Regions from separate parts of the Homo sapiens genome. Here region 2 is linked to region 1. A link means that fine-mapping ties the variant in region 1 to the expression of a gene that starts in the linked region. Tissue or cell type: whole blood. Region 1 holds a variant in brackets; the other region holds the start of a gene. All regions are shown on one strand. Distances are between the middles of the regions.

Region 1 (5,231 bases):
GAATCGAGGCCAGAGTGGGTCCAGTCAGAGGATGCAGGGCCAGTGTGTGCAGGTGTGTGCAGAGCTGAGGAGCTGGGTCAGCTCTGGCCATGGGTGGGAGACCTATGATCAAGGCTGAGGGAGAGTGAGAGAGTGAGAATATTTCTATGGTCTCTGGGAAGCAGCAGTTTCTGGATTAGAGCCTGAACCAGTTCTGGCCCCACAGAATTAGGGCATAACCAGAGTGTTTGTGGGTGGGGGCAGTGATTGAGTATTGTTCTCTCTGCTGGAGAGAGGGGGAGCCCAAGGCAGTCAGATGGTAGCTACTGAGGTGTAGCAAGAGAGTTTTTCTCAGGTCTGGGACCAGCATGTGGTCAAGGCCAAACCAGGGCTTCAGTCCACGTAATTCCATGGATGCATTTGTCCTCATTCTGGGTTGAGGAAGGGACTTGCATCAAATCTCTGAAGGTTGAAATAAACCTACAGCGGAGGCATGCTGAAATATTGGCTGAACACTATCCTGTGTGGGCTCACGTTCCTGGGATAGTTCATATTCACTGTCTGACTCTTCTCCAGATGCCTCTGGGTACAGCCCTTGCATTGACTTGTTTTTCTGCCCTGAACCCAGAAGCTTGGTGTTGGAGTTGGTTTTGGCACGATACAAAGCTGGGCCCTTTTACCTCTATTTGCAGGTTCTTGCTTGGTCTTGCTATGGGTCATGTGACTTCGTGTTGGCACCATTGTTCCCCCAATTTTCCCCTAAGTCCACCCCCTCATCTGGTTGCCAGAAGACTATTTATCCTCCCAATTTAAAATTTATCATTACCAGCCTGGAAAAGATTGTGAGTCCTTATCACTACAAAAATTTTTTTTAAAAATTAGCTGGTCATGGTAGGGTGTCCCTATAGTTCCAGCTGCTCAGGAGGCTGGGGGTGGGAGGATTGCTTGAGCCCAGGAGCTCAAGGCTTCAGTGAGCTATGACTGCACCACGGCACTCCAGCCTGGGTGACAGAGCAAGACCCTGTCTCAAATAAATAAAATAAAATAAAATAAAATAAGGCACTCACAGAAGGATTCCAAAGTTCATTTCCTCAGAAGTAGGCCTTCTGGAGGGCTAGTAATGTCCTATATCTTGGTCTGGTTAATGGTTAAAATACTATATTTGCTTTGTAATAATTCATGGAGCTGGTCAGGTATGGTGGCTCACACCTGTAATCCCAGCACTTTGGGAGACTGAGGCAGATGGATCGCTTGAGCTCAGGAGTTCAAGACCAGCCTGAGCAACATAGTGAGACCCTGTCTCTATAAAAATACAAAAATTAGCTAAGCATGGTAGTGCATGCTTGTAGTCCCAGCTACTCAGGAGGCGGAGGCAGGAGGATCACTTGAGCCCAGGAGGCAGAGGTTGCAGTGAGCTGAGATTGTGCCACTGCATTCCAGCCTGGGTGACAGAGTCAGACCTTGTCTCAATAATAACAGTAATAATAATAATAATAACAAAATTCATGGAGTTTTACACTTATAATTTGTACTTTTTTTATGTTTATGGATCTGCCATACCAACAACCTGTGAACTTCTATGTATGTAAAAGAGAAATAAATTTCCATCTTGTTTAAGCCACATATGCAGACCAAGGTAGTGCTCCCAAATCACCAGAAAAGGGGTGATGTAAAGTGCATATTAACAAAAACCTCATGCCTGTAATGCCAGCACTTTGGGAGGCCAAGGCAGGTGGATCACCTGAGGTCGGGAGTTCAAGACCAGCCTGACCAACATAGAGAAACCCCGTCTCTACTAAAAATACAAAATTAACTGGGCATGGTAGCGCATGCCTGTAATCCCAGCTACTTGGGAGGTTGAGGCAGGATAATCACTTGAACCTGGGAAGCGGAGGTTGCAGTGAGCTGAGATCACGCCATTGCACTCCAGCCTGGGCAACAAGAGTGAAATTCCATCTCAAAAAACAAAAACAAAAACAAAACAAAACCTTTTCCTTGATTCTTACCATCATAAACAGAAACTTCATGAGAAAGTAGGAAAAGTTTAAACTTAAATTTACGGGTCCACAGTCTCTTACTTAACAATCTTGAAATTTGAAAGGCTCTAAAAATGAAAGTTTTTCATAATTCAGTTGGTGGCATAATATAACTA[C/ACTAC]ACCTGAACTCTTTTAGCAGCAAAGCCTGACCAGAACTGATGTGAGGCTATGTTTAGTTTTATTTACTCTATTTAGGAGAAAAAATCACTAAGTTTTGCTGAAAAAATAATATATTGGGTTATGAAATGTTTTTAAAATGTTGCTGGAGGCCAAGTGCCATGGCTCACGCCTGTAATCCCAACACTTAGGGAAGCCAAGGCAGGCGGATCATTTGAGGTCAGGAGTTCAAGACCAGCCTGACCAATATGGTGAAACCCCGTCTCTGCTAAAAATACAAAACTTAGCTGAGCGTGGTGGCATGTGCCTGTAGTCCCGCTACTTGGGAGGCTGAGGGAGGAGAATCGCTTCAACCCGGGAGGTGGAGGTTGCAGTAAGCCAAGATCGTGCCACTGCACTTCAGCCTGGGCCACAGAGCGAGACTACATCTCAAAAAAAAAAAAAAAAAAAGAGTTGCTGGAAAGTGATAGGCAGCTCTCCAGTTACTGAGCATAGTGCAGGGTGGGTGAGTAGTAACTGGGGAAAATCCTAACTGAAACAAGGATAAAGAAAAAAGGCTTATATGATTCCAGGCATTAAAAAGAACATTTTACTTATAAAGGAAAGAGAATTAGACTAGCTTTGCATTTCTGTTCTACAGTACTGTGATAGAAACTAAAATCCAAGAATCTTATGCATAGCTATCATTCTTGGGCAAATTGATGACAGTTTTGTGAATACTGTACAAGATGTTAGGGAGATTGCTAGCCTTCCAGTAAAATTCAATCTTCTCCTTTCCTGTGGGATTATAATTGTAGCCTCAAACATGACATTCTATTTCCCAGCCCCCACTGTAGTTAGACGTGGCTACATGGACTAAGCTGTCTCTAATAGAATGTGATCAGAAGTGTTATGTGCCATTTCTGAGCCCAGTGACTTAAGACCAGTGTGTGCCCTCTTCACACTCTCAGGAAGATGTGCCTGTGACTCAGTTTCAATGATAAAGAAACAAGATGGGGGAATACTATGTCCATAAATGATTGTGTAGCAGCATAACTGCGAATGTCCTAAAACAATGCTCTGAAATGCAACATGAGAGAAAAATAAACTTCAATTTTGCTTGAGCTATTGCATTTTGGGGTTTCTTTGTTATAGAAATTTAGTCATTAACTAATAATCAGGGATTCAGGCAGTATATCATCCATAACTTTATCTGAGAAAAGTAATTGAAAGAGTACTCTAACTAGTTTTCAAGGTAGGAGAAAATAAAAAGAAAGAGTAATAATAAATCTGTAATCTATACAGTGAAATCTAAATACAACATAACATTGCAACTGGGAATTTTTCATAGAAGGACAAAGAAAACATTCTTGAAACTGAACACGCATACTGAGAGGAAATTGTTAATAACATCAGACTAAAAGCTGCAAACTATTTTAGTGTGTCAGTTGTCTGTTGTTATATAGCAAAGTACCCCAAAACTTTGTGACTTAAGATGATAATTTGTTATTTCTCACGATTCGGTGATTGGCTGGGCTCAACCTGGGAGTTCTGTTCCACTTCATGTTGACTGGGGTTATTTCTGTGGCTACATTCTTCTAGGATCTTGGCTGGAACATCCAGAATGGCTTCACTCATGAGCCTGGGACATTGGCAGGGAGGTTCTGGGACTTTTTTTTCCCTCTCTCTCCATGCGGTCTCTCCAGCAGGTTGGCCAGACCTATTTATGTGGTGGCAGAAGTTGCCAATCCTCTTAAAACCTACACTTGTAACTGTCACAGGGTCACTTCCCTTGCAATTGATTGGTCAAGGTAAGTCACAGTCCAGCCCAGATTCAAGTGGTGGGAAACTAATTCCACTTTCTTTTCTCTTTTTTTTTTTTGAGACAGGGTCTCACTCTGTTGCCTAGGATGGAGTGTAGCAGTGTGATCTCGGTTCACTGCAAACTCCACCTCCTGGGGCTCAAGCAATCCTCCCACCTCAGCCTCCCAGCCTCCTGAGTAGCTGGGACCACAGGCATGTACTACCAGGCCCGGCTAATTTTTGAGGTATCTTGCCCAGGCTGGTCTTGAACTCCTGGGTTCAGGCAATCCACCTGCCTCGGCCTCCCAAAGTGCTAGGATTACAGGTGTGAGCTGCCAGGCCTGGCCTTCCCACCTCTTTTAAAAATTATTTTTATTTTTAATTTTTGTGGGTACATAGCAAGTATATATACTTATGAGATACATGAGATGTTTTGAGACAGGCATGCAATGTGTAGTAATCATATCATGGAAAATGGAGTATCTATTGCCTCAAGCATTTATCCTTTGTGTTACAAACAATGCAATTATACTTTTAGTTATTGTAAAATGTACAATTATTATTGACTATAGTCACCCTGTTGTGTTACCAAATGTTAGGTCTTATTCATTCTTTCTAATTATTTTTTTGGTACCCATTAACAATCCCTACTTTCCCACCACCCAACTATCCTTCCCATCCTCTGGTAACCATTACTCTCTATCTCCAAGAAGTCAATTGTTTTGATTTTTAGATCTCACAAATAAGTGAGAACATCTTATGTTTGTCTTTCAGTGCCTGGCTTATTTCATTTAACATAATAACCTCCATTCCATCCATGTTGTTGCAAATGACAGGATCTCGTTCTTTTTTTATGACTGAATAGTACTCCATTGTGTATAAATATCACATTTTCTTTATCCATTCATCTGTTGATGGGTGCTTAGGTTGCTTCCAAATCTCGGCTGTTGTAAACAGTGCTGCAACAAACATGGGAGTGCAGATATCTCTTCAATATACTGATCTCCTTTCTTTTGGGTATAAACCCAGCAGTGGGATTGCTAGATCATATGGTGGCTCTAGTTGCAGTTTTTTGATGGACCTCCAAACTGTTCTCCACCGTGGTTGTATTAATTTACATTCCCACCAATAGCGTATGAGGGATCCCTTTTCTCCACATTTTCGCCAGCATTTGTTATTGCCTGTCTTTTGGATAAAAGCCATTTTAACTGGGGTGAGATGATATCTCATTGTAGTTTTTATTTGCATTTCTCTGATGATCAATGATGTTAATCTTTTCGCCTTTTCATGTCCACCTTTTCATCATGACTGCCATTTGTA
Region 2 (5,231 bases), 59 kb after region 1:
AATTCAACACAGGATTGATGAACTATCTGCAGACATTGAAGACCAGCTGATTCAAAAGGTCAGAGAGTCAAAGTGGTTTGCCCTTCAGATAGATGAGTCATCAGAAATCTCAAATATCACACTTCTTTTGTGCTATATTCGTTTCATTGATTATGATTGTCGTGATGTAAAAGAAGAATTATTATTTTGCATTGAAATGCCTACTCAAATAACTGGCTTTGAAATATTTGAACTAATAAATAAATATATTGATAGTAAATCTCTGAATTGGAAACATTGTGTTGGTCTCTGTACCGATGGGGCTGCAAGCATGACTGGCAGGTATTCTGGTTTAAAAGCAAAAATTCAAGAAGTTGCCATGAATACAGCGGCATTTACACATTGTTTTATTCACCGTGAACGTTTAGTGGCAGAAAAGTTGTCTCCATGTTTACATAAAATTCTTTTGCAGTCAGCACAAATTTTAAGTTTTATAAAGAGCAATGCATTAAATTCACGTATGTTAACAATTTTGTGTGAAGAGATGGGATCTGAGCATGTGAGTTTACCGCTTCATGCTGAAGTACGTTGGATATCAAGAGGGAGAATGTTAAAAAGATTATTTGAATTACGACATGAGATTGAAATATTTTTAAGTCAAAAGCATTCAGATTTGGCCAAGTATTTTCATGATGAGGAATGGGTTGGAAAGCTGGCCTACTTATCAGATATATTTTCACTTATAAATGAATTAAATTTAAGTCTCCAAGGAACTTTGACTACTTTCTTCAATTTGTGTAATAAAATTGATGTATTTAAGAGAAAGTTAAAAATGTGGTTGAAGCGCACACAAGAGAATGATTATGACATGTTCCCTTCATTTTCTGAATTCTCAAATTCATCAGGCTTAAATATGACAGACATCACAAGGATTATTTTTGAGCACCTGGAAGGACTTTCTCAAGTGTTCAGTGACTGTTTTCCACCAGAACAAGACTTGCGTTCAGGAAATTTGTGGATAATTCACCCTTTTATGAATCACCAAAATAATAATCTCACCGACTTCGAAGAAGAAAAGCTAACAGAGCTATCTTCAGATTTAGGATTACAAGCACTATTTAAATCAGTGTCTGTAACTCAGTTTTGGATAAATGCAAAGACAAGTTACCCAGAACTCCATGAAAGGGCAATGAAATTTTTATTACCCTTTTCAACTGTTTATTTATGTGATGCTGCCTTTTCAGCTTTGACTGAGTCAAAACAAAAAAATCTGTTGGGTTCTGGCCCTGCCCTAAGACTTGCAGTCACATCTTTAATTCCAAGGATAGAAAAATTAGTGAAGGAGAAAGAGTAGCAATATGCACATTGCTTAACAGTGAAGTCAATAATCCTGTGTTAAGTTTTGTATAAGTATCCTAAAAGATAATTTCCTAATGTGGATTTGTGTTTTCAGTGATTAAATGTTTTAATAATTTTTCCCTTTTTGTTGAGGAATTTAATAATTATGATTGTTATAAATAATTATGTATAATTATAATCTAGGGTAGAAAATTTAGTTATTTCATTAAATTTGGACTAGTGACAAAGACTGCAGGTAATGAGAAGCCCAGTTTATAATGTAACAGCACAACCTGGATGTTGAAACAGCTTGGCCTTTAGAAGCAAGTGGAACATTTCAGTCTTCTAGCCAACCAGCTACTTACCCCTGCAAGGTTGTGAGTAGGTGGAAAAGATAGATCTTTTTTTTGAGATGGAGTTTTGCTCTTGTTGCCCAGGCTGGAGTGCAATGGCGTGATCTTGGCTCACTGGAACCTCTGCCTCCTAGGTTCAAACAATTCTCCTGCCTCAGCCTTCCAAGTAGCTGGGGTTACAGGCATGTGCCACCATGCCCGTCTATTGTATTTTTTTTAGTAGAGACGGGGTTTCACCATATTGGTCAGGCTGGTCTCTATCTCCTGACCTCAAGTGATCCACCTGCCTCGGCCTCCCAAAGTGCTGGGATTACAAGTGTGAGCCAACGTGCCCAGCTGGAAAAAGATAGATCTAAGCAGCTTGGGTAACTATAAATGGAAGCAGCAGGGGGATTTGAGACCCCTGCTTGGGGCCTTTCTGGCCCAATATACCAGGGCTTAGCAAACTTTTTAAATAAAGAGCCAGATAGTAAATATTTTCAGCTTTGCAGGCCATACTGTCACAACTACTCAATTCTGCAGTTGCAGTGCAAAAGCAGCCATAGACAATATGCAGATAAGTGTGGCTGTTTTTAAATAAAACTTATTCATGAACACTGAAATATGAATTTCATATAATTTTCCTATGTCACACAAGCTTCTTTAAAAAATGTTTTTATCATAAAAAATGTAAACAAACATTATTAGCTTGGGGGAAGGGGAGAAGCATGGAAAAAAATCAGACATCTGGCCAAATTTGGCCCATGGTTTGCCCATCCCAGCTTTAGACAGATTTCCAGGTAAGAGCAAATGGGCCAGGAGTGGACTGTAGGGCTTGGTTCAGTGAAAGCCTCTCTATCCATGCAAGTATCTGAATTTTCAAACACCTTTCACATTTCATTGTCAGCCGAGATAAATTAGAGGGAAAAGATATCTCAGGCAAAGAGACTTATTTAATAATTAATGGTTATTGATTTATTACAATTTTATAAATTAATTTACTAATTTACAAATAACTTTCTGAGCTCTTACATGTGCAGGCACTGTGCTAGGCCTGTTACAAACTCTGGAGAACTGAGTTATCCCCATATACAGATGCAGATACTGAGGCCCTTTGGGGTGGGTGACAGCTCAGATCCCACAGCTAGTGTGGCACAGGCAGGAACGAAGCCCGGGGTCTTTTGATGGTAGCTGAACCGCACCCAGACACCCACCCGTGTCTGCCAGCACTCCGTATTGGCTGGGAAACACTCCCTGAATCCAAAGGTGCCTGTTTAGTCAGTTACCAGCCAGTGGTCCTCAAGTGTCCCCACCTGTAAGATGGGGGCGCCCTGCCCCAGTACTGCAGCCTCGCGACCCCCTGGAGGGTGGGGGACGGTAGCTCAGGCGAGAGTCTTCCGGCTGCCCCGGGGAGGGAGGAAATGAGCCGGCGGCAGGGGCGGGTTTTCGGCGGGGCCAACCCACGGTGGGGGGAGCGCGGCCATGGCGCTCCTGCTTTCGGTGCTGCGTGTACTGCTGGGCGGCTTCTTCGCGCTCGTGGGGTTGGCCAAGCTCTCGGAGGAGATCTCGGCTCCAGTTTCGGAGCGGATGGTGAGCGGCGCGGGCGGGCGGCAGGGGATCGGGCCCGCGGCGGCGTGTGCTCCGCCCTGCCGCTCCTCGCCCCCGGCCCGGCAGGCCGCCTTCGGGCTTCCGAGGCTCAGCTGGAGCTGGGGGAAAGCGCCTGGCTTTCGACTGAGGCGCAGGTCCTGCCTGGGGAGTTCCTCGAGTTCTCTGGATCTTCCCTAGACGGAAGGGGACAGAACCTCCCCTTCCTGCAGAATATTGGTGGCCCCAGGCAAATCTAGAGCCTTAGGAGGTCCCTCCCACCCCCCCGGACCCTGGGGGAGGATGATGCGGTGGGAAAATGAGCTCACTTCCCGCTCTCTTCCCTCTTTTCGCCGTTTGCTTCAGTTTTTGGGAGGTTCGTGGGGTTGGGGTGTAGTAATCCTGGCTTTGCAGGGAAGGAAGCCCGCCCTGAAGGGCAAGTATATCTGCTAAAGATTGCACATCTAGTCAGGAAGCAGGACACAAGCTAGACACTCCTAACTCGGAACCCAGAGAGGGAAGCCTCTCTCGGAAGCCTGAGAGGGATGCCCTGAAGTCGTCTTTCAGCCTTCTGTCTAGTTCCAGACTCATGGGAAAGCTTTCATATCCTGTTCACCAATCTCCCCAGTCCCTCAAAAGAGCCAGACTTGTAGACCTCTGCTGGCATCTCTCTCCAAGGCCTGGATAAATCCCCAGAGACAGACAGCTTAGAGCTGCTTCCCAGCAGAGCTGAGGAGGGGAGGTAGAGCTGAGGAGTGGGAACAGGAAAAAGTATCCCCGAAAGTAAGGATGAAGTTGTCATTTGGCTCAGGGGAGGGCCTGCCTTGACAAGAAGAGTCACTTTGAGCCCACCTAACTCTGCCTCACCTCCAAATATTCCCTGTACAGCAGCCTTAAGAGAAACCAGGCCAGACACAAAGAAGGAAACTGTGGAATTCCCCAGGCCTTGGCACTAGGGAGCCAAGCCCAGCCCCCTCCTCCTGGGATTTGGGGCTGGGTTGTAATCTCTTGAGAGGTCTAGTGAGAAGATCAATCTCTGTACCACTTGGAGCATGGAGCCTGTTTCCTGATTCCAAAGCTCAGCGCCACAGGGCAGCCCTCTCCTCTTCAGGCTGACCTCAGCCCTGGACCTGACCTAGAGTAGTAGTTCTTTTCTCTGGGAAGTTGAGGGCACAGGCATAGATATGCCATGGAGCATCTGGGGAGCTCATCCTTGTTGAACAATGAGGCTAACAGGCATTCCTTGCCACCCCTAGAATGCCCTGTTCGTGCAGTTTGCTGAGGTGTTCCCGCTGAAGGTATTTGGCTACCAGCCAGATCCCCTGAACTACCAAATAGCTGTGGGCTTTCTGGAACTGCTGGCTGGGTTGCTGCTGGTCATGGGCCCACCGATGCTGCAAGAGATCAGTAACTTGTTCTTGATTCTGCTCATGATGGGTAAGGGGGCCAACTGGCCTGAGAAAATGGGGTCTTCTGGGGGAGGATTATGGAAAGACCTGGCTGTTCCCCCTTACTGTTGCCACCCTTCTTTTTTCTCTGGGATCAAGAGCACTTTCTGCTCTACCACAGTTTCCATGGTCTTCAAACTAGCACAGGTATTTTTTTTTTTTTTTTTTTTTTTTTTTGAGATGGAGTCTCGCTCTTTCGCCCAGGCTGGACTGCAGTGGCACTATCTCTGCTCACTGCAACCTCCGCCTCCTGGGTTCACACCATTCTCCTGCCTCAGCCTCCCGAGTAGCTGGGACTACAGGCGCCTGCCACAGCGCCCGACTGATTTTTTTGTATTTTTAGTAGAGACAGGGTTTCACCATGTTAGCCAGGATGGTCTCGATCTCCTGAACTCGTGATCTGCCCGCCTTGGCCTCCCAAAGTGCTAGGATTACAGGCTTGAGCCACTATGCCCGGCCTAGCACAGGTACTTTTTAAACTTAATGTGCTAGAACATTATCACATGTTAAGTGTACCTTCTACCTCCTCAATTCTAATGGCTGCATAGTA

What was found. PIP is the estimated chance that this variant, and not a neighbour inherited with it, causes the effect.
Region 2: it holds the start of TMEM35B, and the variant in region 1 is fine-mapped to the expression of TMEM35B in whole blood (TOPMed, PIP above 0.99).

Annotation. Positions count from the first base shown.
Region 1 is chr1:35,042,261-35,047,491 of GRCh38, reverse strand. No RefSeq gene overlaps it. Among named protein-coding and RNA genes, the nearest start is that of ZMYM6, 13 kb to the right of the region's middle. The variant C/ACTAC (reference allele first, on the strand shown) is at 2,132.
Region 2 is chr1:34,983,206-34,988,436 of GRCh38, reverse strand. It overlaps TMEM35B (transmembrane protein 35B), which reads left to right and starts at 3,090. Exons shown (of 3, transcript NM_001195156.2): 1 at 3,090-3,239; 2 at 4,490-4,670. The coding sequence starts at 3,132. ZMYM6 (zinc finger MYM-type containing 6) reads left to right here. Exons shown (of 16, transcript NM_007167.4): 16 at 1-2,272. The coding sequence ends at 1,333. RefSeq lists silencers at 3,112-3,401, 3,462-3,531.